Regions from separate parts of the Homo sapiens genome. Here region 2 is linked to region 1. The links come from fine-mapping of genetic effects on gene expression. Tissue or cell type: adrenal gland. Region 1 holds a variant in brackets; the other region holds the start of a gene. All regions are shown on one strand. Distances are between the middles of the regions.

Evidence for each region. PIP is the estimated chance that this variant, and not a neighbour inherited with it, causes the effect.
Region 2: it holds the start of TMEM51-AS1, and the variant in region 1 is fine-mapped to the expression of TMEM51-AS1 in adrenal gland (GTEx, PIP 0.93).

Annotation. Positions count from the first base shown.
Region 1 is chr1:15,121,599-15,133,268 of GRCh38, reverse strand. It overlaps TMEM51-AS1 (TMEM51 antisense RNA 1), which reads left to right. Exons shown (of 5, transcript NR_027136.1): 2 at 8,896-9,041. Among named protein-coding and RNA genes, the nearest start is that of TMEM51-AS1, 25 kb to the left of the region's middle. The variant T/G (reference allele first, on the strand shown) is at 8,414.
Region 2 is chr1:15,145,592-15,162,358 of GRCh38, reverse strand. It overlaps TMEM51-AS1 (TMEM51 antisense RNA 1), which reads left to right and starts at 9,895. Exons shown (of 5, transcript NR_027136.1): 1 at 9,895-10,068. It overlaps TMEM51 (transmembrane protein 51), which reads right to left and starts at 8,612. Exons shown (of 4, transcript NM_001136218.2): 1 at 8,405-8,612. RefSeq lists enhancers at 7,107-7,768, 7,900-7,989, 7,769-8,430 and silencers at 8,140-8,319, 8,410-8,459, 8,520-8,789.

The DNA.
Region 1 (11,670 bases):
CTGCACAAGGGCCTTACTTCCCATAATTGCTTGGCACCCTGAGGTCAACAGATAAGGCTGGTCCTGACCAGAAGTGACCTGCTGGTCACATGAGATCACCTGCTAGTCACCTGAGGGCTGAAAGAATAAACATCTCAGGCACCTCGTGACCATTCTGCAGGGGGAGCTTGATGCAAGGTCTCTTGTATGAGTCTAAGAATCTTTAAAATTGCCCTGTTCGCTTTAGAAGGACCCCAGTTTTATTTCTTGATGTTCTCATTTTCCTATGAAATTAGTAGTATCTTTCATTCCTGGAGGAAAAAACTAGTCCTTGCCCCTTGTGTTAAAAATTATTTCTCTCCTCCCAGGTATGCAGTTCTACAGACAAATGGAGATTCTTTAATAGCAGGGCTGCCTGGGGGAGAAAAAGTTATTCTGGCCTTATTTACCCAATGGCATTTCAATTGACAATGAACACGAATGCCCTGATTGTTGTTTTGTGGGTTCTGGCCAGTCCACACCGGAGCTGGTTACATTTCAAAAGTTTCTTGATAGGTGGGTGCCTGGGAATTAAAATATATTTCCTTGGCCTGGTGTGGCTGGTCACACCTGTAACCTCACACTTTGGGAGGCCGAGAGGGGAGGATAGCTTGAGGCCAGGAGTTTGAGACCAGCCTGGGCATAGAAAGACCCCATCTCTACAAATTGTGTGTGTGTGTGTGTGTGTGTGTGTGTGTGTGTGTGTGTGTGTGTGTATTTTTTTTTTCTTCTTATAGTGACAGTGTTATCAAAACCAAGGTGGTTTTCCAACTTAGCCCACAAATATCTATTCAACTCATATAATTGTAGAAAGTAACCTGGGTGCAGTGGCTTACACCTGTAATCTCAGCACTTTGGGAGGCCAAAGCAGTGGATCATCTGAGGTCAGGAGTTTGAAACCAGCCTGGCCAACATGGTGAAACCCTGTCGCTACTAAAAATACAAAAATTAGCTGGACGTGGTGGCATGTGCCTGTAATCCCAGTTACTCAGGAGGCTGAGGCAGGAGAATCGCTTGAACCCGGGAGGCAGAGGTTGCAGTGAGCGAAATCTCATCACTGCTCTCCAGCCTGGGTGACAGAGCAAGACTCTGTCTTGAAAAAAAAAAAAAAGTACTATCACAACATGAGTAAGTTTTCACTTATGTAACTCATCTAAGATTTTAGATGGGAAAATGTAAAAACTGATTCCAGAGTTAATAGAACTTGTGTTGTTGGAAAAATGTTCACATCTCCCTCTTAACCCAAATGTTGGCCCGGAGTGTCTGTGTCTGGGTGCTGTGCTGTGAGGGCCGGGGGTCACCATCCTGGGCAACGGCTTCGTGCAGACACCTGCTCAGTCAGGCTGGAGGCCCCAGCAGCCAACCAGCTGCTGTTTCTCAGTCTGGTCACTGCCCAGACCAAAGCAAGGACAAGAGAGGGGACAGGTGCTCTTGGGAGATGCAGTTGAGAGCAGGGATGTGCTTAGCTGGGGCTGCACCCTGGCAGGCACAGACTTGCTTTGAGATATTGCATTTTATCTTGAACAAATTCATGCCACCTTTGCATTCTACCCAACAAAACTCTCACATTTGCGGGGCACAGTGGCACACGCCTATAGTCCTAGCTACTCGGGAGGCTGAGGCGGCAGGATTGCTTGAGCCCAGGAGTTCAAATCTAGCCTGGGCAACATAGTAAGACCTTGTTTCTAGAAAAACCAAACCAAAACGATTTGTTTTATTATATACAGCTTAACCCTTCTGTGCCTCAGTTTCTTCATCTGTAAAAGAGTGAAAATAGCAACACCTGCCTTGTAGGGTTGCTGTGAGGACCGAATACATTTCATTATATTTAATGAACTTAGAATAATGCCTGTCACCTAGTAAGCACTACACAAGGTTAACTATTACTATTATCAATGTTGTCACTATTATTCATCTCATTAACTTACTAGTTGTCTGGAATCAGTTGCCTGGGAGTGGCCCCTACTCTGGTTTTCAACACAACACACTCTTAAGAGCCAACTGCACACTCTGGGGGAGGAAGGGCAATGTTTCTGCAAATTGTTGTTCCCTTGGCATATTAGTTATCTATTCCCATGTTACAAATTATGCCAAAACGTAGTGGTTCTGTGAAAAACAGTATGTATTATTTCATAGGTTCTGTGAGTCAGGATGAAAGCTGGTGCTCCTGGTTCAAGGTCTGGCACAGGCTGCAGTCAAGATGCCTAACAGGCTGCATTATCCCGAGGGTCAACTGGGGAGGGACCTGCTTCCAGGCTTACCCACGTGGTTGTTGGTAGAACTCAGCTCCTTGCAGGCTGTTGGCCAGAGACCACTTTAGTTCCTGGTCAAATGGGTCTCTTTATGGGATGGCTTACAACTTGGCAGCTGGCCTTATCAATGCAAGCAAATAAGGAGACACACACACACACACACACACACACAGAGAGAGAGACAGAGAGCGAGCACGCCCACACATACACAAGCAAGATGGAGGTCACAGTCTTTCATAACCTAATCTCAGGAGTGACAGCCCATCATTTTTACTGGATTCTATTCTTAGAAGCAAGACATGACCAAGGAGAGGGGACTTCACAAAAGGTGGGGTCATTGGGAGCCATTTAGAAGCTGCCTGGTCTGTTGGGGGCACAACACCTTGAGATCATGGGCATTAGAACCAAGTTTGATGCCAACTTTTAAAAAATTTTATTATTGGATCTTGAATTCCTAGCCTCAAGTGATCCTCCTGCCTTGGCCTCCCAAAGTGCTGGGATTACAAGGATGAACTGCCATGTCTGGCCCAATGTGAGCTGTTTCTCTTACCTAGTGTTAAAATAAAATGGGAGGCCATTAGGCTGAGGTGGCTCCCATGCCCTGGGATTCTATATAAACAAGGTGAAGCTTAACCTTAGCCAATCATAAAAGACCAGCTAAGCATTAATTACATGATCAGGAACTTTCCACCAGGATCATCTAAATAAGGCAACTGCCCAAACCTTAACCAATCAAATAATTTCTTTATTTTCCACATTCCTTATTTAATTTATCTGATTTTCCTCTTTACTCTATCAAAGCCCTTCCTTCAAACTCCTCTGGAGGAGCCCTGAACCACCTTCGATTTGGTGCTGCCCAGTTCATGAATTGCTGTTTGCTCAAATAAACTCTTTAACTTTTTAATGTGCCACCATTTATCTTTTAACACCAGCAGTGTGAGTCCCACACGTTGCTCTATCTCACCCAGCCTCGTCCCTGAGGATCAAATGTTACCTACCTTGATGAGCCACCTTGCCCAGTGTGTGAGTTTCCCGTGGCTGCTGTAGGAGATTGCCACAAACTTGGTGGCTTATTCTTGCACGGTTCAGTGGCCAGAAATATGACATGGGACTCACTGGGCTAAAATCAAGGTGTCAGCAGGGCTGTGTCCCTTTCAGGAGGCTCTAGGGAGAATCCGTTCCCTTGTCCTTTCCAGCAGTGAGAGGCTGCCGGCACTCCTTGGTCTGTGGCGCCTTCCTCCATCTCCACAGCCAGGAATGGAAGTTGAGTCTTTCTCATGTTGCACCGTTCTGACCTTTTCAGTAGCCACACTTACCTCTGACCCACTTCTTTCTCCTCCTTCACCCAGCGTTAAGGATCCCTGTGGCTACATAGGGCCCCCTGGATAATCTAATCTAGATATTCTTCCTATTTTTAGGTCAACTGATGAGCAGCACTCATCTCACCTGCAACCTTAGCTCCCTCTGCCATGTAAAGTATCACAGTCACGGGTTCTAGGAACCAGAGTGTGGGCCTCTGGGGACCCATCATTCTGGTGACCATGGAGTCCTTCCTTGAATCAGTTTTCATGTGACCCAAGGGCCTCCCCTTTCTCACAGGCCACACCTGGCTGCCTGATTGTCCCTGGCAGGGGGGTCCTGGCACCCAGAGGAGGAGGCGCTCCCCATATGCCCAGGGGCCAGGAGGGAGGCTCATTAATCGTGTAGGAACATGAAGAGGAGGCAGGCGGCTGGACAAAGTGATGTTCAGGGTCTTGCTTCGAGGTTCCCACGTGTGTGTCTGACTCCCTGGGGCTGCCCACGTGGTCCTGTGGTCCTGTGGTTTTACTCCAGGAGGCCACCTGCCTGCCACCCCTCAGAGGAAGGGAAAAAGCTGCCGTTTCACGTTGGAGCTGCACGCACAGAGGAAGACCTCCTGCCTGGCATCAGGCCATTCCTCAACTCATCTCCTGCTGGGTGGTCTATCGTCCTCACAGCGTGCTGGGCTCAGGATCTGGGCCTCCTGGCTGGAAGGGAATCTGGGTGGCTTAACAGGTTTTATTTGTCCTGAGGCCAGCTTTCAAATTTTGCCGACCCCACTGATGTTTCTGGCATCCTGTGGAGGAAAGAAAACAAAAGCCATTTCCCCCCCAAAAGCCACCTTTTGGGATTGCAGACAGCTGGCAGGGATGGTGGGGGGCCCTGCCCACCTGAAACTTTGTCTACTGGGCCTGGATCTCTGAGTGGCCTAGGCTGCTTTGGTCCTTCTTGAGCTGAGCTGGGCTAGGCTGGTGAGGGGCGTATTGTCCTGCCATCTAGTGGCGAGTTCTGGGACTGCGAGCTATAATGGCCCAGGCGCTGCCTATAGTGGAGCCATATATACCAGGGCGGTTGGTCCCAGGCCCCTGGTCATGCCACAGAATCACCAAAGGAAGTTTAAAAACTACGTAGGCTCCAGACTCACCCCACACCTAGTGAATCAGAAATCCCGAGGCCTGGAAATAAGCATTTTAACTTTAGCGTGTAGATTCCCTAGGCCCTATCTCAAAACCCTAAATTATTGGCTTTGGAGAAGGACCTAGAAATCGGAACTTTTAACAAGAGTACTCCAGTGACTCTCGTGAGCAGCTTGACTTGAACACCACCCATTCAGCTGCCCACAAGATAAATGAGGCAACTGTGGGATGTAGATTATTTTAAAAGCTGATACAATATTCGATCGTATTACTAGGAGCATAAAGTCCAGGTTAAGGGAGGATAGCAGTTAAAAACATCTGGGTTCGAATCCCTACTTTTGATACTACTAGTTATGTGACCCGGGGCCAGTGTCTTAACTTTTTCCTGCCTCTGTAAAGTGGGGATAAGAGTACCTGTCTGCCAGGATTACAGCAAGGACTCAATTAGATCTCATGTAAAGGGCACAGGGCCTGACCCTTGGGAATTGGGCCCTTCATTACGATTCCACTGCTTGGGCCTATGTGGGAGCACGGTGTCCTTATTCAGGGATGTATTTATGAGAGGATTGTCCAGAGAAGGAAGAGATGGAAGGGGAGACCATGGAAGAAGGACAAGGGGCATGGAAAAGGCTTGAGGGTCTGTAATGGGGTTGGGGGAAGGAGATGTTTTGGGAGGGAGGCATTTATGCTGCTTAAAAAAAATAACAGGCCAGGCGCGGTGGCTCACGCCTGTAATCCCAGCACTTTGGGAGGCCGAGGCGGGCAGATCACCTGAAGTCAGGAGTTCGAGCCCAGTCTGGCCAACATGGCGAAACCCTGTCTCTACTAAAAATACAAAAATTAGCCGGGTGTGGTGGCTCATGCCTGTCATCCCAGCTACTCAGGGGGCTGAGGCATGAGAATCACTTGAACCCAGGAGGCAGAGGTTGCAGTGAGCCAAGATCGTGCCACTGCACTTCAGCCTGGGTGACAGAGCAAGACTCTGTCTCCCCAAAACAAAACAAATAACAGAGGGTCAACGTGGAAGAGGGACCAGGAGGCAGAGTGATAGAAAGTCCCCATGAGCAACTGGAACTAAGAAGGGCACAGGCAGACTCATGGTACAGTGAGCTCACAGCCACAGGAGACTGCAGGCCGATGCTGCATGAGGAATCTGTTGGGTGCCATAAAGCAGTGGTTCCCAACTGTGGCACTTATGTCCCTCATGGAGTGTGACCTGATTTGGGGGACATGCAGGTGAGCATTTGCAGGAATATTTATTTGTATATTTATGTGCATACTTGGCACATAGAGGCACACATATCCGTACCCACATCTATGTATTAGAAAACAGAGCCAGCGTCTTAGGCCTGTGGTTACACAGACACAGGCAGTGATGTCAGGTCTGGCCCGATTTAAAATAGGCAGCTATTATGCCAATAATAGTAGAGCTGGTTGTGGATGTGGTTGGAATAGTCAGGGTGGTCTTGGGGAACCCAGCCATAGAGGAACTTTCTGCTTGGGTTTGGAGACTGATGTCAGTGACATGGACTGGCTTTCCTGTGAGTGAGGACTCCACCCCAGGGCCTTCACTCTTGTGTCACCAAGAGGGTGTCGGCAAAGTTGCCGTTTTTAACAAGCCAGTCTGAAGCCTCTGGTGACCTCGATGCTGGAGTTTGTTGGGTTAAGTGACCACAAAACCAAATGAACCTGCCCACCTAACACGTGTCTCCTGGAGTCTTTCACTCTTGCTTTGTGTTTCTTTTCTTCACAGCACCTGCTGACATGATATATATGTATGTGTGCATTATTTCAGGCCAGAGACTGTTTTGTCAGTAGATCTATTTCACATAGTGCTGGCATAAGGCACACACACCCAGCAAGTGTTTGTTGAGTGAATAAATGATGGAAGCAACTTTGATAAGACTTGCTCCAGTTGTTTGGGGATGCCAGTTGCATGCCCATCTATCTCTGAGAGGCTCCTGGAAGAGCATCTTGCAGCAAGTGTACCAGGGCTCTGTGCTGTCAGGGTGGTGTTGGCTCCATCCTCTTGGCGCTGGGTTGATCTCTATCCTGAGCTAGAACCGGAGTTGTCCTGGAGAGGAACCTGGCCAGAAAAGAGCCATGTGGAAACCCTGTGAAGAAACCAAAAGAGGGGCGATGGTCCTGGGGTGTCCAGATGGTGGCATGGCAGTGAGGAGACACAGAGCCATAACTTGCCCACAAAAGCAGCCTGGCTTCTGACTCTGCAACTCTCACAGGCTCAAGGGGACGACATTGTAACCAAAATGCAGATTCAGTTCCTCGCCACTTGCAGAGTCTAATTAACAAGCTAGGTCTGGTATAAAGAAAGTGACTTTTTATTCCAAAGCTAACATAGGGAAAGAAGTACAGGCTTCCTGCCTTAAGGGTTCCACCTTGCCTTTGGAGCAGAAGGGGAGTGTTTTTAAAAGGGGCCTACACAGGGGTGGAAGTGAGCAGGGGGGTTTCACATGCTACCTTGATGGCTTATTTACTGGGACTCGAGTTGGCATCTTCATGGGCATACTTTGGGTCATCAATCAACTGTTATCTATCGAGGAAACCTCCTGGTGGGTGAGAGTTTTGCTTTGGAGCTTCTAAGCACATGATTAGGTGAACTTGCCCTGTAAGGAGTGTGTGGGGAAGAGGAGGTAAAAGGCTATAACTGCATTTCTAAAGAGCTAAGTAGGAAGTGAAGAACAGGGAGAAATGGAGAAAAGAAGAGAAAATAATAAAGAATAATAGTAACTCCTTGTCTTTTTCCGGGAAAAATGGGGGCACTTGTTACTCATCTCTAGCAGCAAGACTGGGTCAATTAAAAAAACAGAAGAATTTAGGATTCTTTCATGCTTCCAAGTTGTTCTGTGTAATGCAGATAGAGTCCTTAAAATGCAGGCGAGAGTTGTGTGTGTGCATGTGTGTGGTATGTAGTTGCTGGGAGAAAGGGTGGGAGTCACCTCAGTGTCAAGGCCAGTGGACAGTAGGTCATTTACCTGGGAATCTTCTCCAGTCAAGCATGTGGAATCCAATTCTAGTTGTCTTTAGCTGGTGATGGGGGTAGTGTGTGAGACTCTTACGTGCTGAATTGCATATCCTCAAAATTCAGATGTGGAGTACCTAAGGGTGTATTTGGAGATCAGATCTTTAAAGAGGTAATTAAGTTCAAATGAGGTCAGATGGGTGGGCCCTAATCCAACATGACTACTGCCTTATAAGAAGAGGCGATTTGGGCACACACATACATAGAGAGGCAACCGTGGATGGACCACAAGGAGAATATGGCCGTTTGCAAGCCAAGGAGAGGGGCCTCAGAAGAAGCCAACCCTGCTGGCACCCTGAGGTTGGATTTCCAGCCTCCAGGACCATAGGCGGGTCCATGTCTGTTGTGCAAGCACCGTGGCCTGTGGCTCTTGATTATGGCAGCCCTAGCAAACTAAGACACAGAGAAATGGGAATGGTAGGGTGGTGGTGCTTAGTGCATCACAACCAAACCTCAGAAAGCAGGGGTGGACGTGGCCTTGGAGACGACTGGATCTGAGAATAGATCAGTTGTCCTTGCCCCCCTCCCGCATCTAGGCATCCGACTCTGGCTGGGCCCCGTTCTCTAGGCATCTCCTTGTGGGTGGGATGGGGCAGCCTGCAGCTCTGGGACTCGTCGTACAGCTTAAGATCCAAAAAAAAGCGGCAGCTCACCGCCACCTGCAATTC[T/G]GAGCCCTGTCGGAAAGGGTTCTGATTTTCACCTCTCAGGTTTGGAGTCTACTCCCGGGCCTTTCATCATGGGCCAGGGCTGCAGGGCTGGATTGGTCCAGCCAGGATCCTGAGACTTCCCTGAAGGCGGGGTTGGGGGTGAGGTGGGGGCAGCAGGATCCTAAGGGCACTAAGATCAGCAGCACCCCCACCTCCAAGAACTTCACGGAGTGGGGGCGGAGCAGTTCCCTGAGGCCAGCCAATCAATCGGGAGGTCTCAGCAGAGATGCTTTCCCCTCTCCATCCTGATTGGTTCCCACCCAGGAATTTCCCATGAAATCCAAACCACAAGGCTCGAGGCGGACCCCCACTGGGAGGTCCCGGGCCGCGCCTGGGGCGCAGGCAGGCGGGTCCCTGTGAGTGTGTGGAGTGGTGGTGGCTGTCGACGGCCATGTGGCGTCATGGTGATAGGAGGGTGTCCATTCTTTTTCTTCCTTATCTAGGACTTGAGGTGGGACATGGAAGAACAGGGACCCCTCCTGGTTTGTCCACCCAGCCCACACCTCCATTCCTCACCCAACCTACCACTTCAGAGCCGGGAAAAGACCTCAGAGAACATCCGCTCCGACTCTACCGAGGCTCAGACAGGGTAAGGAGTTGGCCCCACGTCACACAGCCTGGTGTATGTGGCAGAGCCTGGGTGACAGACAGTCAGCCCCACCAGGTCTTTCAGCTCCAACCTTGGTTAGAAGGGGAGGAAGGCTGGCACACCCAGCTGCTGCCAGGCACCGCCGCTAATGTGCTGTATTAGTGGCCGGGCCTGAATCACTTGCCCAATTTGGACGTGGGCAAGTTTCCAAAATGTCCTGGTTGTTTCCTATTGTCTATTTTTAAAAAATGATGGCCTGTAATCCCAGCACTTTGGGAGGCTGAGGTGGGTAGATCACCTGAGGTCAGGAGTTCAAGACGAGCCTGATCAATATGGTGAAACCCCGTCTCTACTAAAAATACAAAAACTAGCCGGGCGTGGTGTCGCGTGTTTGTAGTCACAGCTACTTGGAAGGCTGAGACTGGAGAATTGCTTGAACCTGGGAGGCGGAGGTTGCAGTGAGCCGAGATTGCACCACTGCACTCCAGCCTGGGCGCCAGAACAAGACTCTGTCTCAAGAAAATAAATAAATAAAAATAAATAAAATTTAAAAATTTAAAAAAGGTGGTGATGATGCAGGTGTGGTGCAAGATTAGCTATTATAAGTACTCACCGAACCAGACCTTTCTAAGTCCCTAAATTATTACCTTGTTTTAAGTCAGGAGCTCACGGGGCTGATGGGGCTGTCTTTACCCTTTAAGCCTATAATTTACAGAGCAATATTCTTCCAGGCAGAGGGGGTGGATCCAGCTTCCAACCGTGCAGTACTTAATAATGAGGAGGTCTTTTTCGCCTTGGGGACATCTGGCTTCAGGAAATTTTACTGTAAACAGCTGGGTGTGACCAGCCAGCTTTAGGGCCAAGGCTGTAATGGCCCAGTGGGTTCGAGCCCAGACTCCACAGAGAGCCAGTCTGCTGAGGCTGAGGTCCTAGCTGCCACTCACTAAGGTGGGACACTGGGAAATCTATGGAACACTCCGTGCCTCAGTTTCCCATCTGACCAATGGGGAAAACAATGCTTACCCGAGATTGTTGTGGAGACTAAATGAGCAAAAACACATACAGCTGTGATTCTCAATCAGGGATGATTTTGTTCCCCCAGGGACATTTGGCAATGTCTGGAGAAATTTTGAGTTGTTCTGACTAGGTAGACAGATGTTGTTACTGGCATCTAGTGAGTAGAGGCCAGGGATACTGCTAAACATCCTATAAGAATGATCTGGGCTTGGTGCGGTGGCTCATGCCTGTAATCCCAGCACTTTGGGAGGCCAAGGTGGGAGGATTGCCTGAGCGCAGGAGTTCGAGACCAATCTGGGCAACAAAGAGAGATCCTGTCTCTACAAAAATTAAAACAAAACAAAACAAAAACTGGCCCAGAATGTCAGTAGTGCTCACTGAGAAATGCTGGCGTAAAAGACAGTGTGATGGTCCAATCAGTATTGGTGCTTATCAGTCCTCAGCTCAAGGTTGGATGTCCCTGAATTCTCAGTTCTCTTTCTGGCACTTATGTGAGCTGCTGGGTGCTTGGTCTTAAGTTTTTTCTCCTGTCTGAATATCAGGGGGCTCCTCTCCCCTGGAGTCTGCCTGCCCAGCCCCACCTGCAGGGGAGAGGAAGCCTGTGTTGGGAAAGAGGAGGCCCCTGCCGGGCCACTTTAGAGGATCCACTGGCTTCGCACGTCCTAAGAGCCGCAGGGTGCTCTTGGGCTGCTGTTCTCTCACCTCTTAAGAGCGGAAAATCCGTGCATGCATTGTGTCCTCAGGCCATAAGCCTGGGTGGGCTGCCTCCACCCTTGGTGAGTTTGCAATCCTATCCAAGCCAATGGGATTCCACCCTGAGACTTTGCTAGAACCGCCTGGCAAGAGGGTCTCTCTTGTGCAGGGGTTGCTGGCTGAGACAGTGTTTGTCTTGTGACCATTTTGCCAACAAATGGGGACAATCTGTCTGAGAATTAACTGGTATAAACGATAGCAAACCCAAGAGGTGAAGAAGGCTGAGTGTCTTGAAAGCAACATCGGACACCCTGGCGCCAGCTGTGTCCAAAGCCAGCTGTTGACCTTGAGTGTTCTTTACGTATGCCGCTTCATTCCCATTTACTGTATTTGCAAACCATTCTTTGAGTGGGGTTTCAGTCACTGGTCACTGGCTGTATTAGGCCATTCTTGCATTGCTATAAAGAAATCCCTGACACTGGGTAACTTATAAGAAAAGAAGTCTAATTGGCTCATGGTTCTGCAGGCTATACAGGAAGCATGGTGCCAGCATCCCCTTCTAGGGAGGCCTCAAGAAGCTTCCAATCATGGTGGAAGGCAAAAGAAGATACCTTCTTCCTACTTTCTCTCTCTTGCTCCTGCTTTTACCATGTATTGTGCATTACATGGTAAAAGCAGGAGCAAGAAGGAGAAAGTAGGAAGAAGATGCCAGCATTTACAACAACCAGATCTCGTGAGAACTCACTCACTGTCACAAGGCTAGCACCAAGAGGATGGTGCTAAACCACTCATTAGAAATCGGCCTCCATGCGGAGCTTGCAGTGAGCCGAGATCATGCCACTGCACTCCAGTCTGGGCAACAGAGCGAGACTCCGTCTCAAAAAAAAAAAAAAAAAAAGAAAAAGAAAAAGAAATTGGC
Region 2 (16,767 bases), 27 kb before region 1:
AAACCCCATCTCTACTAAAAATACAAAAATTAGCTGGACATGGTGGCACATGCCTGTAATCCCAGCTACTTGGGAAGCTGAGGCATGAGAATCGCATGAACCCAGGAGGCAGAGTTTGCAGTGAGCCAAGATTGTGCCACTGCACTCCAGTCTGGGCAACAGAGTAAGACTGTCTCAAAAAAAGAAGAGAAATTTGATCCCCAATGTTGGAGGTGGGGCCTAGTGGGTGTTTGGTTGTTGGGAGTGGATCCCTCTTGAATGGCTTGGTGCCCAAAGATCTGGTTGTTAAAGAGTCTGCTCCCCACTCCTTCTCTCCTCTTCTCTCTCACCACATGACGCCTGCTGTCCTTCTGCCCGAGGCCCTCACTAGAAGCAGATGCTGATGCATCTGAGATGCCATGGGCTAAATAAACCTCTTTCTCTCTTTTTTTGAGATGGAGTCTTGCTCTGTCGCTAGGCTGGAGTGCAGTGGCTCCATCTCGGCTCACTGCAACCTCCGCCTCCCGGGTTCAAGCCATTCTTCTGCCTCAGCCTCCTGAGTAGCTGGGACTACAGGTGCCCGCCACCATGCCTGGCTAATTTTTGTATTTTTAGTAAAGACTGGGTTTCACCATGTTGGCCAGGATGGTCTCGATCTCGTGATCTGCCTGCCTCGGTTTCCCAAAGTGCTGGGATTACCGGCGTGAGCCACTGCGCCCGGCCAATAAATCTCTTTTCTTTATAAATTACCCAATCTCAGGTATTTCTTTACAGCAACACAAATGGACTAAGACAAGTATGCACCCAGAAGTGAAACTGCTGGATCCTATGGTTATTCGATTTTAATTTTTTGAGAAAAATGACTTTTGTTTTTTTGAGATGAGTCTCACTCTGTTGCCCAGGCTGGAGTTCAGTGGCACGATCTCGGCTCACTGCAACCTCTGCTTTCCAGGTTCAAGCGATTCCTGTGGTCAGCCTCCTGAGTAGCTGGGATTACAGGCACCTGCCACCATACCGGGTAATTTTTCTATTTTTAGTAGAGATGGGGTTTCACCATGTTGGCCAGGCTAGTCGTGAACTCCTGACCTCAAGCAATCCACCTGCTTTGGCCTCCCAAAGTGCTGGGATTACAGGTATGAGCCACCATGCCCAGCCCCCAAAATGACTTTTAAGAAGAAACTATATAAAATACTTTTTCCACCTCTGCCTTCAGCATCTGCCCTGAGTGCAGCGTTTCTACACTCAGTATTGGCCTGTGTTAACGAAGCTCTTTTACACCTTGAGGCCTTTGCACAGGCAGTTGCCTCCACCAGGAAGACCTTTGGCGGTGGCGGCTGCACCTGCCCTCCCCGCTCCCCATTTCAGCTCAGACTGCACTCTTTCTGAAAATCCTTCCTGACTCTCCAAGTTTGGGTTAAGCCTCCTCCTTCACGGGCTGTGCTTCCTCATCTTTATTCACATGTTGTTAAGGTACAATCCCTGCTGCCTCCCGTGGGGGATCAGCTCCATCGGGGTGGGGGGCGGGGGCTGACTCTCCCTCGTTCCTGGGCTCAGCGCCTGGCATACCATATGTATCAGGAGATTTGTTTAAAGTGATGGCGCCGGTGTTTAGCTACAGGCAATTTCCCCCAAAAGAAGAGAATTTGCATCTGTCACTGTTTGAAAACAATAATTACCCACAGGCAGTTCCAGTACCTAACTGCTTCTCTCCAAATTGCAGGCAGTTTTAAGGAAGCTGTATGTGAGGCCTCTTATGGTAACTTAAGAAAGTTTGAGTGTTTGTTTTGTTTTTTAAAATCATGTTCTTGCTGGGTGTGGTGGCTCACGCCTGTAATCCTAGCACTTTGAGAGGCTGAGGCAGGTGGATCACTTGAGGTCAGGAGTTCAAGACCAGCTTGGCCAACATGGTGAAACCCTATCTCTATTAAAAATACAAAAATTGGCCGGGCGTGGTGGCATGCACCTGTAATCCCAGCTACTCAGGAGGCTGAGGCAAGAGAATTGCTTGAATCCAGGAGGCAGAGGTTGCAGTGAGCCAAGATTGCACCACTGCACTCCAGCCTGGGCAACAGAGTGACACTCTGTCTCAAAAGAAATAAATAAAATAAAATAAAGTCATTTTCCCTCACCAAATATCAACAAATCATGCCCCACACCCTAACCAGCACAGGCCCAACCTGTGGGTTCCAGGAAAAGGTAGGATAAGGTAAGGCAAGTAAATTCCACCTGCTTCTCTACACCCCTCCCTAGACCACATGTGAGGAGAAAAACATGGAAAAGACATAAAATTGCCCAAGATTTAGAGCCACCTAATTTTACCTGTTGAGGAAATAGCAAAACCTCCTGGAGACATCCAGAACTGCACATCATGTGAGTCCACGATCTTAAAAAAAAGAACTTGCTCCCTGTGGTGAGTTCTCATTCTGCCAGGTTCTGCCAGGATTTGGTGACCCTGGGCTTATCATCTCAAAGGCCTCTCAGGCCAGGGGATGGGCCTGGGAAGCTTCCATTGGTAAAGCTCTGGGGACATTAAAAAAAGAAGAAGGCTAGGTGTGGTGGTTCATGCCTAGGCCGAGGCAGGCGGATCACGAGGTCAAGAGATCGAGACCATCCTGGCCAACATGGTGAAATCCCATCGCTACTAAAAATACAAAAATTAGCTGGGTGTGGTGGCGCATGCCTGTAGTCCCAGCTACTAGGGAGGCTGAGGTAGGAGAATCGCTTGAACCTGGGAGGTGGAGGTTGCTGTGAGCCAAGATTGCACCACTGCAGTCCAGCCTGGCAACAGAGCGAGACTCTGTCTCAAAAAACAAAACAAAACAAAAAAAGAAATGCCAGAACAGGGTTATTAACTCTTCTTTGTTTGAAATGTGGCATTGAAAAAATTAATGCTTTGTGCATCTCAGCAATATAAATTGGGTTGTTGGCACGAGAGCGACAGGCTTTAGGATAAACATGAATTCCTAGTGCACGCAACAGTGAGGCCTATGGGGGTCACAGGCTGCACCGTGAACGTGTGTTTTGAGTCGCTCATTTGTGGAGGGGTCAAGGGTCTACATCTGCAGATTCTCCTCAATGTGAGGCCTGAGTGCTACCTCCCCTGCAGCAAAGGCCCCAGCCTCTGTTTTGTGGCCTCAGTTTCTTCTAGGAATTGAGGAGGCTAGACGAACAATGGCTTCCAACTTTCTGTTTTATTTTTAAAGTCACAGAGTTTTAAAAGTGGATGTTTTGTATCCTTAGCATAAGCCGAGCTTCCTTCCTGTCGGCCCTGCCTCCACCACTCAGCTCTGTCCCTGCAAACCCCTGAGTTGCTTCTAGGACCCATCCAAGGTTTCCCAGGATCACAGTATAACCGGAGCTACATTGCGCAAGGTTCTTACCATGCAGGAGGAGAGACGTTTTTACCTAGTGACTCAGTGCACATCCACAAACAGATAACTGAAAGTTTTACTAAGGAATATTTCTCGTGACAGGAAATGCATGCTATTTTCTAGTCCACTGTCTTCTACTTCACTTTTAAAAATCCAGCGGAAAACCACTCAACGATGCTCAAATCCACTAGTAAGTGGCTGTCCATTCTGTGAACATGAGCTTAGAAAATCCCCAAGATACGAGTACTTCCAGTACTGATGATTTATGGCATTAACAAAGCTGTGATCCTGGTAGAGAGAGACAGAGACCCCGCCCCATCCTGTTCCCAGAATGGGGTGTCCTACCTGAATCACCGATTAGGAAACAAATTCTCTGCACATCTTTGCTATTGAAACGCCTACTCTGCAAGAGCCAGGGTTTGGAGATGAGCATGCCAAATACCGATTTTTCTAGAGACCTGCAACTTGCCTAACCCCATGCCTAATCCCAGGGAGATTTGGGGCAAGGGGCAGTGATGGTGGGGTGGCGGCACTTGGATGGGTTAAAACAAACACAGCAAAAATAAACACATAAAAGTCAGAAGAAACAAAGCTGTCTCCCTCCCTCTGTATGAATTTGGGTCACACGCATCACACCCAGATGGCCCGTGGCTTCCATTTCTAAGAGTTCAGAGAGAATTGCTTTCCCAAACCCCATGGTGATGCAGAAAAACGGCCCTCTGGACTCCCACAGTGGTGAATTGGAAACGTCTTTGCACTTTGCACAGCGTCACAGGGTTTTGGCCAAGGGAATACCTGCTAGCCATCAAGGGGTGGAAGCACGTGAGACCTACAGGTTAGATCCTGCGTGAAGTCACTCACATTATCTCATGAAGATAACAGGCACTGTAATGACGAGTTGAAAAACCAGGATACGGGCTGGGCATAGTGGCTCTTGCCTGGAATCCCAGCACTTTGGGAGGCTGAGGTGGGAGGATCACTTGAGCCCAGGAGTTCAAGACTAACCTGGGCAACACACAGAGACCTTGTCTCTATTTTTTCAAAAGCAACAACAACAAACCAGGACATGAAACAGCTCAGCAAACAAAAACCTGAATAAAACGCCACCATATTAACAGTGGTCGCCAGCCTTCACGATGTCATCTGCTCGTTTTTACAAGGAGCACCTACTTCTTTTGTAATCTGTGGACGAAGACAACTTTAAAAGCCTGCCATCCAAAGACACATTATCAAGTCTGGCTAAGGGAGTGCCAGATAAATGCACTCACTAGCTCATGCCGTGGTGTTAATGCCAGTTTGAACAGACAGGACCTGGAAATGCGCAGACACACTCCTCAATGTGCACACCTCATCTTTCAGGACCCTTGGCCCTTACTCCTCCTGACCATGTCACCACGGATGCCACAAAAACACCTGGTAGTGTGAAGTGCAGACAGAAAGGGGATCTTGGAGGGGGAGGGTGCCCTGTTTTGTTTTTCAAGAATCATCCTCAAAATCATTCAAGACAAACTCTGGAACCTCGGGTTCTGGTCCTGGCTGTGATCTCAGGCAAATCTCCTCTTCCCTGGGTCTTGGTCTCCCCAGTTGTCAAATAAGCAGAGTGGATTTTCTGATGGCTAAGATCCCTCTGGCCCCGATATTCTAAGATCTGAAGCTACGCATTCAGGTTTAAGGGCTGCTAAGTCTGATAAATCCAGGGCAAGAGAGAATGTGGAGACTTTAGGTTGCTCCGCCCAAGTAAACACCACAGACAGAAGGTGAGGACCAACCAGCAGTCTTGAGACGGGAGCTGAGGGGAGGAGTCGAGGGTCAGGGGAGCTCAGCAGAGACCCTCAGAGGGCTATCTCTGGTCAGCATCTTGGGGCTGTCTGGGAGGGACAGGGCTGTGTGGCCTGGTATTGGGAAACCAAACAGGTGGCTTGTTTCTTCCAAACAAACGGCCTGTTTTCTTTCTCAGGAGCAAGAGCTCCCAGGAGGGGTGGCCATGGCAGCGAGGGCTCAATCCAGAGGAAGGGAGAATAAAACATTGGCAGGGGAGGCTGCACCACCTGTCCAGGCTGGGGAGGAGCTCAACTCTATGAAGCCGCTTGAAAGACTGAGAGGTTGAGAAACCTGGGGCCCAAAACAGTCTTGGTCCCGAATGTGGCCAGGTCTCCTGGGTTAAAGTAAAGGGCCCTAGAAGGGAGTCAGGAGGGCTGGGTTCCAGTCCCAGTTCTGCTGCTGAACTGTTGTGTGTCCTTGGGTAAGTCCCATCCCCTCTCTGAGTTTTGTTTGTCAAATGAGAATGATGTCTCTGATGACCTGAAGGTCCCCTCCACCTGAGACATTCTAGGACCTTCCTTTTCCCTCCAAGCAAAGGGAGACTTGAAGCATGGAGAAGGATATTCTCACAGCTTTCGCTGCAAGAGGAGGATTCCTCCCAGCTTCAGAGCAGAAACAAAAGTGAAAGCAAAAGTCAGCAGCCCCCATACCACATCCCAAGTCAGAAGACACCTGAGCTTCTGAAACTTTCCCAGCACCGAGGGAGACAATGCTTCTCTTTTGCATGACTCCCACCTTAATTTGGGGCTGGGGGAAGAGAATCCACACTAAAGCTCCTCACACTCTGGCCTCTTCCAGCCCAAGAAGCCTGAGGGGTTTACAGCCAGGCCTGCAGAGGGAGGGAGGAACGTTGACCAGAAACACAACCTATTAAAACGGGAGCCCCAGAAGCTCCAGCTGGCCTCTGCCTCCAGCTTTCCCATCCCTCACGCAGACAGAGAAACTCCCAGGCCTCGTGACATCTGGAGCCAGCGAGCCGGAGAGTCGCAGCTGGAGGGGCTTGGGTCCTGCCAATACCCCAGACACTCACTCACTACTTCTCTCTGGCAGGGGACCAGGCTGGCAGTTTGGGCCTCATGTAGAACCCCAGAATCTTACCCTTGACCAACAGTCATGAGTGAAGGCCACACATTACTCTCTGCTTCCTGTATGGGCCTCTCCTCCAGCTCCCCCATTCATTCCCACTGCCCCCACCAACCCACAGGCCAGCCTCTCTCTCCTAGGAGTCTTCTCTAGGATCCTCGCCAACTTCCAGGCAGCCAGGATTATCTTCTTAACATATGGATGGGATCAGACGACTTCCCTGCTTAGAGAACTTGAATGAAAGGGACGTCTTTCTCCATGTTGTTCATCTTTGTTGAGCACCTAGAACAGCGCCTGGCCCACAGAAGGTGCTCGGCCAACATATGTTGAATGATTCCAAGAAAGCCCCCACCTGTCCAGTCCAGCTCACTCCGGACCTTCCATTCCCTTTACTTTTCCACACCCTCCACTGCCTGAGCACCTTCCCCAGCCCAGCACACCCCAGGCACTCTCCTGTCGCTGTGCCTTTGCCTGTGCTGTTCGATCTGCCCAGACACCCTTCCTCCCCTGTTCCCTGGGGGGACTCCAGTTCCCTGATGAATATTCTAATACTCTTTTCTTAGCAGGACCTCCTGAGTTATTTCCTTTCTTCTGTTCTCGTCTAAGCCCTGTGACATAACTTACTATAGAATACTTCATGTGCTAGGCATAAATACCCCACCTCGCCCTTGGAGATCATCATCCCATTTTACAGATGAAGAAGCTGAGGCTCAGAGAGGTCAGGTCACACAGCCAGCAAGTGGTGTGGCCTGACTGTATCGCCAATTCTGCAACACTTTTCATGAGTATCCCTGACTCCCTCACTAGGCTGGGGGCTCCCTGAGGCTTCTGGGCTCTGGGTCACTGGGGCAGGCCCCAGACACCCCATCAGAGAGCTGTCAGCTCCGAAGCCGTGAGGAGCAGGTTCACCACTAGCCTCCTCTCTCTTTCTTTGGCCTTTTCTCCCAGTCTGGGGGTACCTCTCAATTGGTGGAGTGAGATATTTGGAGGGGCAGGGGCTCTGTCCCAATAGGTCAGGATCCTCTTGTGACAGGTTTCCGGGGTGTGAAAGCTGTTCACGGTCCCAGGGCCAACAGTTCCCTAGACAAGCTGTTCTCCGGGTAACCCATTCAAAAGGAAAGCCAGAAGCCGGCCGGTCCTAGAGGGGAAAGCCTTCCACCCGCTGACTTACCTCCCGGTTCGGGTCCCTGCCCCGCCCACCTCGTCCCCGCCCACCCCACTCCGGCAGCGCCCGGGTTCCCAGCAGCCAGACCTCCCCTGCTGTTGGGAAGGACCCGCAGTCCCATGCACCGTCACAGGCACCTCGGAGCGCTGCGCAGGACACCCCACGGGCTGCTCCCTGGGGAAACCGTGGGGGAGGGGCCAGGTCTCTCGCCCCCACCGCTGGTTGGGAAAGAGACCATTATCCTGTAATGCAGACCAGGCGCGCCGGGCCAAGCGCCTCCCGTTTGTGCGCTGATTTGAGATCTGATTTGTACTCTGCTCTCCCCTAGGCCCGGTAACGTAACTTACCGCTGAGTGCTTGCTGGGTGCTGGGCATGAATGCCCCGCCGCACCCTGGGACGTTGTCATGTCAGTTTCACAGATGAAGAAACCGACGCGCTCAGGGAAGGACTCGAGTTTCAATCCACTTTGCTCATGCCCGATTCTTTACCCCCGTGTTTGCTTGTAGAGCGACACACACACATACACACACACGAATCTAAATCCCTAAAAGGCCCCGACTTCCATACAGTAAGGGATGCGCGAGCAAAGCGCCAAGGTGGTTTCCTGGGACCTACTGGGAAGTTCTGCTCCTAACCACGCGCTGAAAGCGCTTCTGGCGAAGCCAAGGGTTCGAAGCCCGCCGGGCGGATAGCACCTGTTCCCGCCAACAGGGGGCCCCCAAGGCCAGCTGCCTTCCCCAGCCGAGGCCAGCTGGCCAGGCGCGGTGCCCGGGAGGCGGGAGCGTCCCGCGCCGGCGGGGCGCGGCCGCAGAGGGTGCGGGGTGCGGAGTCCTCCCGGTGGTCGACCCCAGGCGGGAAGCGCTCGGCGGACAGACGGACGGACAGGAGACCCAAACGGGCCTCGGCCCCCTTACACGGCCCTGTGGGGAACCGACAGCGCGCCGCGGGAAGCAGCGGGCGCAAGGCGCGGCGGCTGAGACTCACCCGGGAGGCGGCGGGTCCGGCTCCGTCTCGGCTGGGCGGTCCGGGACTGCGGGCTTCGCGACCCCCGCGCCCCACCCGGGCGGCCTCCTCGGTGGGCGCCGCGATCGCGGGGCTGGGGTTCGGGGGATTCTTAGCCGAGGGAACGCAGTGGTGGAGAGGGCGCACTGCCCTCTCAGGGACCGGGTTGGGGACGCAGGAAGCGCGGCCTGGGAGCGCCGGCGTGCGGGAGGGAGGGACCGCGGGAGGCGGAGGGCGGTGCCGGCCAGGAGCGGCCTCCAGCCCGGAGAAGCACCGCCCACCGGCCGACCCTCCCTCCCGGCCCTCGGCACCACCCCCGGGCCCGAGGCGAGGGATCGCAGCTGAGCGAGGCGGGCACCCACTCCCCAGCGTATGCCGCTGGAGCGCGCTGAGCGTGTGCCGGGGGCTGGGCCTAAGTTCTCCCCAACCCTTGCCAGCCGAGTTGGATAAGAGGGGGTCGGGAGAAAATAGAGCCCTGATCCCCCCTCCTCCCTAGGGCCCAGAGAATCGGTGTGCATGCGTGTGTGCGCGCACGCGCGTGTGTGTGACGGGTGGTGGTCGGGGAATGTCTCAAGCTAGAAGTCCCAGGTTTTAGGGGTTTAAGTGGAGCTGGGAGACCCGCTTTCCTCCCACACCAGGCGCAGACGCCGAGGCACAGCTCCGCCAGCCGCCCCGCCTTTACCTGGCGGGATACTCACCTCTCCTCCTTCCTGGGGAGGCCACCGCCTCCCTCTCCCCCTTCTGCCCTGGGCTGGTTCCCAGCGAGGTGAGTGACCGGCACAAGTAGGGAAGGAGGAAGCGAGTTTTTAAAAACTGAGTCAGCTCACGCCCTCGGCCAGGGTCCCCACCCGATGCGTGGTCCCCAGGGCGCCCTCGGGATCGCACGCCCGAGTCCCGGCCCAGGTGGGGCCCATTCCGGGTTCTTGCGCGCGGGCAATGGATGGGGGCGCGCTGCACCGGGAGCCTGCCCTGCTGAGGGCTCATCCCCAGCTTTGCCGAGAACTTTCCCGGCGAGGCACCGGCTGGCGTTTTCCCAGCCTGCGAGTGGCAGGCGGGCAGCCAGTCTCTGCTCGGATCCACGGAGGCCCGGAGCCGCCACGGAGTTCTGGCTCCGGGGAGTGCAAACCCGAAGTCGGCGCGGAAGCCTCTCACCCGCGGCTCTGCCTCCGCCCCTTGGAGATCTGCCCTCGGAACTGCGTTGCTCTGGCGCCCGAACTAGGGTGGGCTGGTTTCAGCCAGACCGCCAAAAAACGTGGATGCTAAACACAGAGGGAAGAGCCAGCTCCCATTCCCTCTCTGAGCCTTAGATTTTTTTGAATTCCGAGAGAGGTCAGGCCGGGGTCCCCTTCTTGGGTGAGCGTCCAGCCCTTTGAAGTTCAAACACTGAGAAGCCGATAGGCAGCTGGCTGGCGTCACAGGATCGAGCCGAGGACTGAAGGCGCCTCCTACCGGGAATCCACCGCCTCCAGACGAAAATAGGCTGCAATCAAGTTCACTTCCAAAGGCGGAATTCATGGGTACATATGGTGTCCACGTGTGTACACCTGCAGAGTTGTAACATGCGGGCATTTCTCCCCTCAGCCCGCCATTCTGGCTTCTTAACTTGCACCCTAACAGCTCGACAGAACCTTGGCGTCCACAAAAAGGCAAGTTTGGGTCTGCCTTATGATTTGGGGGTGGGAAGGCATTTGGGGAAACAGTCTCCATGTCTATGACAGCAACTGCTATTCCTCACATCCTTGCTATGAACCAGGGGCGGGGTTACCACCCACATCCCCTGAACCATCTCATTTAATCCTCATAACCTAGGAGGCGGTTATTTGTTATGCCCACTTTATAGAAGAGAAGGCTGAGGCTTAAGGAGGTGAGGTCATTTTGCCCAGTGAAAACACAGCTGGGAAGTATCAGGATCTAGACCCAAGATGATCCACTCCAGAGCTTCTGCTCTCCCTCCCATAGCATAATTCCTCCTGTCTGCACATACTCTCCACCCTGAGAGAATGTTCACCTTGCCTGGCCACCTGCAAATGCGGAATAAACATTTGTTGGATGAATGAAAGCCCTAAATAATAACCCATGATTTTAGTGAATAGGGAGGACCCTTTGTGTAGGCAGGTACCTATAATAATATGCTCCCATTTAAGAGCTGTGCGTATTCATCCCAAAGTTTAGACAATGCATGTGGGGACCTTCCCAGGCTCCAAAGGAGTGACAGGAAACAGTCACGTAGCTCTCAGATAAGACCAGGAATCTGGTTTTCATTTGACTCTGCAAGATGGACTTTGGAGAGGCCTGGGGTGGGGGCGGGGGGTGATCATGTCAGAACAGCTGTCCCAGCTCCTAATCTGAAGACAAAGAGCTGCTGTACTTTTCCATGCCAGGGTCATCCCAGACCCGCCCCACTCTGCTGCAGACTCAACTGGGCAGGTCTTGTTTATCACAGGATATCATCTTCAGAGTGTTCCATTTAAGCAGGCTCACCCTGGCTGATCTGGGGAGAGACTGACGAAATTCTCAGGCAAAGCTGAGGCCCAGGCAAAACTGAAGAAGCTACCAAAGGAAGCATGCCTCTCCTTATCCTCCTCTCCTCCACAGCCCTCTCCCTCTACATGGTTAGTTTCTCTGAATCTTCCCTACCATTTATTGAACCCTGTGTTTCACGTGCACTGCATACATTGTGTTCTTTGGTTTTCAAAACAGCCCTAGAAGGAAGATTCTATTATTCTAGTTTTTCAGATGAGGCTGTTAAGACTCAGAGAAGTTAGGTACCTGGATCTGCTAGCAAGTGACAAAGTATTTGAATCTGGGGTCTTTGCAGGGCCCTTGCTCTAAATCACTAAGCTAGGAACCCCCTTCTGTGATAGGCAGAATAATGGCTGCCCAAAGATGTTCACAACCTGATCCCCAGAACTGGTTACTTTACGTGGCAAAAGGGACTTTGCAGATGGGATCAAGTTAAAGATGTTGGGACGGGGAGGTTATCCTTGATTTTCCTGGTGGGTCCAATGTTGTCAAAAGGGTTCCTACAAGAGGGAAGCGGGAGGGTCAGAGTTAGAGAGGGAGATGTGGTGATAGAAGTAGAGATCAGAATGATACAGTTGCTGGACAAGGGTCAGTAGCCAAGGAATGTGGGCAGCCTCTAGGAGCTAGAAAAGGAAAGGAATGGAGTGTCAGCCAGAGCATCCAGAAGGAGCTCTTGGCATCCACAAAAAGGCAAGTTTGGGTCTGCCTTATGATTTGAAGGTGGGAAGGCATTTGCAGATCCGTTTTGGACATCTGACCTCCAGAACTGTAAGAAGATAGTTCACTGTGTTGTTCTAAGCCATGAAGTTTGGGTCAATTTGTCACAGCAGCGGGAGGAAACTAATACATCCTGCAAACTCAGTCACCTAGGCAGATGTTCACTTCACCTGCTTTTTTGGCTAACTGTCCACTGTAAACTTCTGAAGAGGCACCATGATCTAGCCTACATCACGGATTTAGAAAGAAGGCAGGATTCCATCACCTTTGTCTTTGGTTTCTGAATCCTCTGCTATTTGTGAGTTGTGTGACCCTGGGCAGATGTCTTGTCCTCTCTGAGCCTCAGTTTCCTCATGTGTCAAAAAAAAATTATTAGCATTTCTATGCTAATAATACCTATTTTCCAGGACCAACTCGGGGATCAGGTGAACTAGTATGTGACAAAGTACCCAGTGTGGCCTGAACATGAGTTGTGGGAGCATTAGCCTGTCTAGTTCTGAAAGCCTGAATTCAAAGAGGAGAGGATGCTGTTCTGAGAATTCCCGTGGCATTACATTTTTATTCTTTCTGGCTGAATGGGTAAATAACGACAGTTTTAAAATATTCGACTGTCCCTGGTTAGTGACCAAGACCCCAGTCTGTCATGCTACTGACTTTCCAGGCACATCAATGAAAGTGAGGCTGGAAAATCAGCTTATAGAAATAGATCATCATGCAGAACAACTCACACATGTGCTCAGGAACAGAACGTCCAAGGGTTTTCATTGCTGATTAATTGTAACGGTGAAAAGTGGTCACCAACCTCAATGCCCAGCACTAGGAGCTATGCTAAGTAAATTGTGGCATAGACTCATGCTGGCACACTATGAAGTCACCAGAAAGAATGAGGTAGAGCTATCTGACATGGAAGAACGTCCAAGTTATATCATTCACCGAGAAAGGCACTAAATATGATGATACTACACAAACCACTTTTTTTATTTTTTATTTTTTTGAGACAGAGTGTCTGTCACCTAGGCTGGAGTGCAGTGGTGCAGAGGTTGCACTACAACCTCTGACTTCTCGGTTCAAGCAATTTTCCTGCCTCAGCCTCTCGAGTAGCTGGGATTACAGGCGTACACCACCACGCCCAGCTAATTTTTTGTATTTTTAGTAGAGATGGGGTTTCACAATGTTGGCCAGGCTGGTCTTGAACTCCTGACCTCAAGTGATCTACCCGCCTCAGCCTCCCAAAGTGCTGGGATTACAGGCATGAGCCACCATGCCTGGCTCACAAATGACTTTTTAAAAAGATGTAGACACACATACATATATTTGATTATGTACAGAAAGACTATGGGAGGAATCAAACCAAACAGGTTACCCTTAGAAACTGAGGGGGGGTGTGTGTGTGTTGGGGAGGTAATTTTATTTTTTAGTGAGAATGTGTTAATAATAAAGTTGGCTGGAAACCACCTGTATTGTCCACCAGGAGCATATCCTCCTATTATCTGTCCCTGTATCCTCCCTTGCTTGCTCTGTTCTCTGCCATCTGTCATTCTTTACCCTTGCTTGGTTCTGAGCAGGTCACTCTCTCTTCCCACTGACTTTTTTTTTCAGACAGGATCTTTCTCTGTCACCCAGGCTGTGGTGCAATGGCATAATCTCTGCTTACTGCAGCCTCCACTTCCTGGACTCGAGTGATTCTTCCATCTCAGCCTCCTGAGTAGCTGGGACTACAGGCATGCACCACCACACCTGGCTAAGTTTTAAATTTTAAATTTTTTTGTAGAGATGGGGGTCTTGCTACGTTACCCAGGCTGGTCTCAAAATCCTGGGCTTAAGTGATCCACCTGCCTTGGCCTCCCAAAGTGCTAGGATCACAGGTGTCAGCCACCGCGCCCAGCCCCCACTTACTCTTAATGTGGGCTTATTTCTAAACCTGTGAGGAGCTGAGCAGTGTCTCTGCTGTATGACTCTTGCCAAAGTCAGCAGTAAATCACGTATGTGCACTTTCAACCTGGCCTTTTCCTGAAACGGTGCACATTAGTCACCGGGAAGGGATGTGTCTTGCGTGTAGGTTTCACTGGTGATATACTGGCCCAGCCCCACTGAAGGCTGAATCAGGTCTGTGTGGCAGACAAATTGTGCTCACGTAGCGCAAAGCAAAATTGGATAGTTGGACCATTAGTTTAAATAAAACAGTTTTGTCCCGTTTGCTGAAAAATGTTGATTCTGGAAATGTGTTTCTATCTGAGTTACCAGTGTAACTGGACCTGTGTAGACAGCCCAGAATGAAGCTTCTGAGGACATCGTCGCATTGGGGTACAAGTTCTTGAGACCCCTGAGAACAGCCAGCTAGCAATTCTACCTCCCTATCACCCCATCTCCTCTTGTGCTCCAGCTTGTAGAAACTTCCCTCTAAGCCTCAGCATGATTGCAGTTCATCTGGCTGCTTCCTAACTGGTGTCCTGCTCCCAAACCCTCCCCCTTTAATCCATTCTCTGTATTGTAAAGTCAGCAATTCAGTGGGTCCCCGTTGTCCCCTCATGCAGTCCAGCCTTCTCTGCAAGGACATGTGGGACTTCCTAAGGGGGTGGGCCCTTCTCACAAGCTCAGCCTCATTACTCGTCATCCCTTGGGCTCCATGCTCTCTCATCTTCCCGTGGGTCTCTTTTTCATCAGCGACGAAACCTTTCCCAGAAGCTCCCAGTAAACTTCCTTGATACCTCCTTTGCCGGAACTGGGTCATATGCCTGTCACTGGCAAGGACGCTCAAAATGGGCATAGGCTCTCAGGATTCACCTGGAGTCACCTGGGGGTTGGTGAAGACACCTGAACCAAATGGAGGCTTTGACAACAGAAACAATGCCAATGGCTGTCAGAAGACCCCAGCAGGTCCCTGCAGCAGGTAACCTCGAGCCCAGGGAAGCTGCCATGTTGGACTGGCACACACTGAAGCAGGAAAGCCAACTGCAGAGGGAGCAGGAGAAAGAAGCAAGCCTCCACTTGCTGGGCTCAAGTGATTCTTCCATCTCAGCCTCCTGAGTAGCTGGGACTACAGGCATGCACCACCACACCTGGCTAATTTTTAATTTTTTTTTTTGTAGAGATGGGGTTCTTGCTACGTTACCTAGGCTGGTCTCAAAATCCTGGGCCTAAGTGATCTACCTGCCTTGGCCTCCCAAAGTGCTAGGATCACTGGTGTGAGCCACCGCGCCAGTCCCCACTTACTCTTAATGTGTAATCCAGGAGGCCTGGATTACTGCTGGCCCTCCTGTTCTGTTTTTCCCAGGAATTTCCTTTCCTGATGAGTTTCTGTTTCTTGAAATAAAAGGACACTAAGAGAGTCCCTTTGAAGCTTCGACAAGCAGCTGAGGAGTAATGCCAGAGGCCAGGCATGGGTGCCCTGACCTTCTGCTAGTTAACTAACTGCTCAAGGGCCCTGTGTGATGGGATTCCAAGGAAATCCACTCACCCCTTGGATAAGCCAATGACAACAATAATAGCAGCCAACCGTCATACAGTGCTGACCAGGGCCAGGCAGTCTGCTACACACTGTACAAGGCCTGCTGCATTTGATCAGGCTCGTCACCACATGAGGAAGGTACTATATTTCCCCTTTTCACAGATGGGGAAACTGAAACAGAGAGGTTAAATGACCTGACCATGAACACCGAGCTGGCAAAGCTGGGGTCTGGGCATGGACCCAGGCTGCCTGGAGGCTGTGTTCTTGCAGCTTCTCTACCCTGGCTCTCATAGAACTGGTTGCTTGTGACACCCTTCAGATGGGACTTCTTGATCCAGGTTTGGAGAATGGGTCATAAACCTGGGGACAGAGGGGCCCAAAGGGAGAAGCAATGACAGTATCTTCCACACCTGCCACGGTCCTGGTTGCCCGCGTACTCCGCCTTGCTGCTGTAGTGTGATAATATTTCACTTGATGAAAGTTTTTTTTCCTCCCTTTTGTTCTTTCCAGACAGTGGCTCTTCTTCCTTTAGGGGAAGCCTCATCCAGCAGAAAAGCAGAGATGCTTTTGAGTTTCAAGAACCAATACTTTGGCATTACAAGAGCCTGGGCTTTGAGTTTCAAAAGTAGAAGTCCCAGAGGCTTCTAGGAATAAAATTTGTGGCATTAACAAGACATCCTGAAGACTGAGCACGATGCAAAAGTCATTTCCCCATGACCAAGATGAGGTCAAGTGCCCTGGGCCAGGGGTCTGGACAGAGGATCTAAGGAGAGTGGATGAGCCATGATGATGTGGGGCTAGGGAGGTGGGTGGTGCCCAAGCGGCAGTCCCACACTAGCTTCATAAGTGTGGCTTTCAGGCAAGCTCAGGAGAGTGCCTGCTCCTCCCCTCCCAAGGCACAGATGCAGTGGGGGAGGGAGTAATTGGCAGAGGGGTGACGCAGCCTTGCAGAGGTTTACCAAGCTCTGCCAACATCTCCCGTGTGCCCCAGAGGAGGGAGGAAGAAGCTGAGAGGAGGAGAAAGAGGCCAGGCACAGAGACTTCCAGGAGGCCTAGGCAGCTGCATCTGCCATCAGGAAGATGGAAGTGAGGCCAACATAGCAGATGTCAGGGGACACCAGACACTGACCTCTGCCCAGGCCTTGGCACTTTCTGAGCCTCCTCTACCCCAAAAACAAATCTAGACGCAACCCAGGGCAAGAGGTAGGGAGGCCCTGATTAATTATGGCTAGATGTCTTTCTACCAGCCAAATGGGGACTTGAAATAGAAATTCAATCTAATTTTGAGAGTGGAAGTTGTGTTTCTTGCACCTCTAGGATGTGACTGAAGGTCCTTCTGGTTTCCCTGCTGTTCCTCAAAGGGCTTTGCATGTCTTGCTCTGCTTTCTTGCTCATTTCTACACAAAGGAGGAGGTTACCAGGGTTCTTTAGGAGAAACAGATGTGGCAGAGTCATAGAGTGGAGGTCACAATATTCCTCCTGCCCTTTCTGCATCCTCTTGTGAGCAGCCCACCAGTCTCTCCTTCCTACCATCCAAACTGTCCCAATCCCCTCCTCTGCAGAAAAGCCTCCCAGTATTGACACAGCAGAGTGGATGGTTCTTTGTACCTACTTCATAACGACCATAAGCCCTCAACCAACAGTGTACCTGCTCTTA